2 separate regions of the Homo sapiens genome follow, and region 1 is linked to region 2. The links come from fine-mapping of genetic effects on plasma protein levels. Region 2 holds a variant in brackets. A gene starts in the other region. All regions are shown on their reverse strands.

Region 1 (2,902 bases), not on the chromosome of region 2:
AAATTAGCTGGACATAGTGGTGCACACCTATAGCCCCACCTGCTTGGGAGGCTGAGGTGGGAGAATTGCTTGAGCCTGGGAGGTGGAGGCTGCAGTGAACCAAGATCACCTCACTACACTCCAGCCTGGGCGACAGAGTGAGACTGTCTCAAAAAACAAACAAACAAAAAACAAAATCAAAATCCGCTGAGTGTGGTGGCTCACACCTCTAGTCCCAGCTACTTGGGAGTCTGAGGTGGGAGGATTGCTTGAGCTCAGGAGTTCGAGACCAGCCTGGGCAACACGGCAAGACAGTGTCTTTACCACCACCAAAAAAGTAATTAACTTCAAACTGTTTTTAAAAAAGAAAACGTATTTCCCATTAAAATTACTTCCATGATGACCAACAAAACACAACCAAACTCCAGATTTATAATGCAAAAATCCCCCAAACAAAATAGTCAAGGAAAAGTGTAAGTGAACAGAAACAGTGTGAATGCGTGTGCCTGGCCACAACAGTTGGCAAAGGCACAAGTGTCTGCAGGTGCGGAGGAGGCCGCAGTAGCTCGGGGTGGCTGAGGGCTAAGACGTGCTGTCAGCCATAGGGAAGGAATTCCAGGACACTGCCTGAAGAGTCAGGTCCTCCCACCCGGGAGCCTGTTTCCCACGCGTGCCAGCTACACTTTACAAAAGAAAAGAGAGACTTTGCACCAACCTAGCTGAGAGCAGCCACGCAGCAAAACGTGAGTCACTCAGTGCTCAATGCCTGGGGTCAAAAAATAGAGGAAAGAAGAAGGACTAAAAGCAAATTAGTTTATGTATCATTTGCAAAAGTTTTCAAAATGTGCTTTGCTCTCCATCTGTCATACTTCTGCAGGTGACAGACGAGTGAGGACATTTAGAGAAACTCAGGAACAAACCAGGCCCATCCACTGGCGTCGAGGCTAGTTTCGAAGACAGAAAAACGCCCCACTTCTGTTTGCACTGTGGCTGCCTGTGGCCCGGCCGGGGAGGCGGCCGGGAGTGAGGCCTGATCGTCCCTGGCGCCTCCACCTCCCCAGGCGCAGAAGGCGCCCACGAGGACCCCCAGTGCCCGACGTTGCCACGGTCTGGGATCAGAGGCAGGGACCAGGGAGCCAGGAACTGCGCCGCCCCCGCCCCTGCCCTGGCGCGAGGGAAGCTCCCCTCACCCGGGCCCAGCCCTGCAGGGGGGCGCGTGGGGTCAGACCGCAAAGCGAAGGTGCGGGCCGGGGTGGGCCTCGCGGAGACAAAGGCCGGGCCTGCCTGCTCTCAGAGGGCCCCAGCGCCTGCCAAGAGGAAGTCCTCGAGGCCCGGGCAGGGAAGGGGGCACGGGCTTCCCAGGGCCCGCCGGCCGCAGCAGGAAGTTGGCCAGGGCACGGCCGTGAGCGGAGCGGGCAGGGCTTTCTCAGGAGCGCGGGCGAGGCCGGCGCTGGAGGGGCGAGGACCGGGTATAAGAAGCCTCGTGGCCTTGCCCGGGCAGCCGCAGGTTCCCCGCGCGCCCCGAGCCCCCGCGCCATGAAGCTCGCCGCCCTCCTGGGGCTCTGCGTGGCCCTGTCCTGCAGCTCCGGTGAGCGCCCCGGGCTCCTGGCGCGCACGGTGGGGCCTGAGGCCTCGGCGCCCGCTGCGCCCCCGCCGCTGCCTGCGCCGATCGTGGATCCCAGGTCCTTCCAGCCTCGCCCGGCGCCCAGAGGGCTCCGCCACCCCGGGGCCCCGCGCCTGCAGCCCGCGGCCTCCCCCTCTCAGGGCTGTCTCCAGCCTCGTGCCGGGATGGAGGCCGCCCCTGGCCTGGGGACACCCGTCTGCCCCCCGTCTGGAGACCGGCTCCTCATCCTGCAAGGCGCAGCGCGAGTGTCCCCTCCCTTGGGGGCCTGTCCCGGACCCTGCACAGAGTTCACCGGTCCTTCCGCCACCCTCAGGCCACTCCGGTGACCCTGCAGCGTCTCCTGGCGGGGCCGCCTCCCCAGACCCGCCTGTGTCCCGGGGGCTCGCACCTGGCAGGCCTCGGCGCAGGAGGGAGGGGCGGTCGGGGAGCCGGGCAGGGCGCGACGGTTCCTGGGCGCCTCCCGCGGGGGCGCGTCCTGGACCTGCCTTCTGGGGACCCCGGCGCGCAGGCGGTGACCCCTCCCTGTTCGCTTGCAGCTGCTGCTTTCTTAGTGGGCTCGGCCAAGCCTGTGGCCCAGCCTGTCGCTGCGCTGGAGTCGGCGGCGGAGGCCGGGGCCGGGACCCTGGCCAACCCCCTCGGCACCCTCAACCCGCTGAAGCTCCTGCTGAGCAGCCTGGGCATCCCCGTGAACCACCTCATAGAGGGCTCCCAGAAGTGTGTGGCTGAGCTGGGTCCCCAGGCCGTGGGGGCCGTGAAGGCCCTGAAGGCCCTGCTGGTAAAGTGGGCACCCCGGGTGCCCTTCCTGCGCGGGCATCCCTTCCCGGCCAGCCTCAAAACTGCACCAGAGGTGTCCCGGCCCTACGTCAGGGCTGTTTCCCGTCCTGCCCCTCCAAGCCCTGTCCCTGGGAGAAGCCCGGGTCTCCGGGTGGGAACTGGGTGGGGCGCATCCGAGCTGCAGGGGCGGGGAAGGCGGAGATGGCCCCGCGCGGGTGCGCGTCCCCCGGAGACGCCAGCGGAACCGCCCCGCTCCCGCTCCCCACAGAGCCGGCCGCTGCCGCGCCCCCGCCTGAGTTCTTGGTGGCAGGGCTGGGGGCACTCAAGCTCGGCTTCTGCTTTCCAGGGGGCCCTGACAGTGTTTGGCTGAGCCGAGACTGGAGCATCTACACCTGAGGACAAGACGCTGCCCACCCGCGAGGGCTGAAAACCCCGCCGCGGGGAGGACCGTCCATCCCCTTCCCCCGGCCCCTCTCAATAAACGTGGTTAAGAGCAGCTCGAGCCTGGTATTTTCTCATCCAAAT
Region 2 (2,902 bases):
CAAGCTCAGAGTATAAGTGGCTTTTATAACATTATTGATTGTTTTGTTTCTTTGGTAAAAATTATGCCTAGATGATAAAAATAACTGCCTGACCACACAATAGATTTTTTTTCCTTTTTTTTTTTTTTTTTTTAAACAATTGACATTCAAGCCATGTCAGTTATTTTTGTTTCTAAGATTTCTATTAAATAAAAGGCAGATCCTCTTTAGGTTCCTAGATCCTTTAGAGGTTGTTGCCACGGCTCACCTGGAATTTTTCAGCCTTTTCGGAACCCATGCCTGCACAGATACAATGTTCTTTGATCATCAATGTAAATGCATAATACTATATAATAAAGCGCAACACACTCTATAAATAGAAGTTCACTCCACTTCAAAACACCTGAACGTATATGTATAAAATGTTTTTGGATCACAAGGTATTCATTAATTTTAAGTGCATTTTTCTTAAACGAAAGGGCTTTCTTCTATCTCAAGGCACATGGATATTTTAAAGAAATTTCCACTATTTGGATTTTCTTTTCCATGAGAAGTAGTTTATGAAAGTGTTTAGCCCAAGTATAGTTCCCTCTCCTTCCTGCTGGGTGAGGTACCCTCGGTATCCGCAGCTAAAGGCATTGTAAAAAATCCCTTCCTGTGGTTAAGGAGAAATATTTTCACTCCCACGTCTGTCTCTTACCAGAGACTCATTGTATAAACTTATTGAGCAGAGATTGTAAAAAGATGGGCAATTCACACATAACCAACATGGTTTCTAAAGAAAAAAACCACGCTAGACAAAACTGATGCCTTAAAAAACTTTGAGTAGGAAAGTCAAATTATTGACATAGGGAATGTTTAATGATTGTGGTTAATTTAAATTTCAGGAAAGCTTCTAAGAAAGTCATTTTATGTTCTTTTAACTGCCCAAGTGGAATTTTAAAGAAGGCCTGCAAATGACAGTGTCATGGGCATAATTACCAGAAGAGAGGCTGAGTGTCCCTGTTACATTTTTTGAAATTTATTACCTAAAAATTAACGTTTATTTCCAGTTCAGCAACAAAACACGCAAAGTAGCATATGAAAAAAAAAGTTGCTACTAAGCTTTACAAATATGGTTCTGAACTGGGGGCATGTGGCAATATCTGGAGGCATTTCTGGTTGTCACACTGGGGTGCAGGGTGCTCCTAGCATCTAGTGGGTAGAGGCCAGGGATGCTGCTGAATCTCTTACAATATAGTAAGCAACCCCACAAATTATTATTTGGCCCAAATATCGAGAGTGTTGAGAAACCCTGCTTAGAGAAACACGGTTTACAACATTCAGGGGGCCATCTGCTGCTTGTTTTTTTTTTTTTTCCCCTCCTCCTCCTCTATTCTAGATCAGCCATTACCTAGAAGCAGAAAGTTGGTCAATCCAGTGCAGCCAGGTGTGTGTTGATACGCAGAGGTGTGTTTACAATGGGCAATTGCTTGTGCTTTGCCGTGGCTTAGGAAAACAGAAAACATATGTGCACGGTGGCACGCTGGGGGAGGGAGAAGTGGAGGCAAATAATACAAAAATCTACGCTTCCTGGCTTCCTGGGGCAGAAGAACCACAGCTGCAAATGAGGCTGGACCTTTTCACCTGTGATTACATAAGGTGTGGAGAAGGCT[T/G]GGAAACACCGGTATCCGAAACTCACAGCCTGCAGCTGAGATCCAGCCCGCAGTCAGAACCTAATAAGGCCCAGCCTCCGCTTTGCTCAGGTGTGGGTGCAGCCTGGGAATTCACATCCAGGGACTGCAGGGAGGTAGGACTCTGTATTACAGCACTGTGCGCCCTTACACAAACTGGAATTTCCAGTCTCCTCAAGCCCCTTCTATTATTTTCCACTCAGACACCATGCTGTTGATGTTTTTTTATCTTTTAAAAACATTGTCCTGAAACTTCCTCCTCTTTTAGGGCTCTTTGATTTCTCAGTTGTTCACACTGAAAATCAAATGCAGTGACTCAGCCGCTGGGAATATTCCTGCTGGAGTGATGGCTCCTCCCCTCCCCAGTGCTCATCTTATTCATCCCCTCCAAATATGGACAGCAGGCAAAGCTTCAGGGAGGGGAAGCAGGAGCACAAAAGTAAATCTCCAAGGAAATAAGAAAACGGAGGTGGCCTTGAAGGGCACCCCACACAGGCCTTCCCTGTCAGTGCCCTGCGTGGCTCTGCAGGCAGTTGTGCTGGCTGTACCCACAGCTCCCACACAGTCCCTCTCAGATGGGCAGGATGGCAGCTCAGCAGTGAGGCAGGGGGGGACAGTGACACGTAGCAATTAACTTTCTTGTGCCATGCATTCACATGTTGTCTCATTAACAGTCAAAAGGGCCCAGAAATGGGTATTACTATTCTCAATATTACAGATAAGGAAAGAAGGGCTCAGGGACATTATGCACCTGCTTGGGAGTCAAGAACCGGATTCCAATCATGCTGACTTCGCAGTCCAAGCTTTTGCCACAGGCCCACACTGCTTCCCTAGGACTGTTCGGGGCCATCTGTCTCCAGGAGCTCTTGAGGGTACTGGGCTACAGAGGTCTACAGAAGGGCATCTCCCTGAGATAGTGTGGGAGGAAGCGGCTCTTTCACCTGGTACTAAAACACTGGAATCCCTGTGGCTTCTGGGGACATCCCACAACCCTATCTTTTCTTTCCTGCAAACACAGATATTTATGCACAGATGCATGTGTGCGAAGGTGCACATGTGTCTGCACACCCCACACCTTCCAACAAAGGCCGAGGGCTGAGACTTGCCCCCAGCACTTTCATGCAATCCCTTCACACTTCTCTTTTACGAGGTCTTTTAGCTGTCAAGGCTGCTCCTGAGGCTCATGTACAAAATTAAAAAAAAAAAAAAAAGTCTATAGGCTTCCTTTGAAACAAATTCACAGCAGCATT

Which allele goes with the higher level. Alleles are on the strand shown, and positions count from the first base shown. The strength of an association depends on the size of the effect and on how common the allele is.
For the plasma level of the protein whose gene starts at base 1,479 in region 1, allele G in region 2 goes with a lower level than allele T (weak association).

The links. PIP is the chance, under the fine-mapping model, that this variant and not a neighbour inherited with it causes the effect. Protein levels are from antibody-based Olink assays in UK Biobank. Linkage for the fine-mapping came from a reference panel and not from the study's own genotypes, which makes the PIPs less certain.
Region 1: it holds the start of SCGB3A1, and the variant in region 2 is fine-mapped to the plasma level of the SCGB3A1 protein (UK Biobank, PIP above 0.99).

What each region holds. Positions count from the first base shown.
Region 1 is chr5:180,590,076-180,592,977 of GRCh38, reverse strand. It overlaps SCGB3A1 (secretoglobin family 3A member 1), which reads left to right and starts at 1,479. Exons shown (of 3, transcript NM_052863.3): 1 at 1,479-1,567; 2 at 2,140-2,378; 3 at 2,724-2,873. The coding sequence starts at 1,516. The coding sequence ends at 2,747. RefSeq lists enhancers at 1,278-1,947, 1,948-2,617, 2,618-2,902.
Region 2 is chr12:11,877,264-11,880,165 of GRCh38, reverse strand. All of the region lies in intron 5 of ETV6 (ETS variant transcription factor 6), which reads right to left. Among named protein-coding and RNA genes, the nearest start is that of BCL2L14, 190 kb to the left of the region's middle. RefSeq lists an enhancer at 1,132-1,929. The variant T/G (reference allele first, on the strand shown) is at 1,635.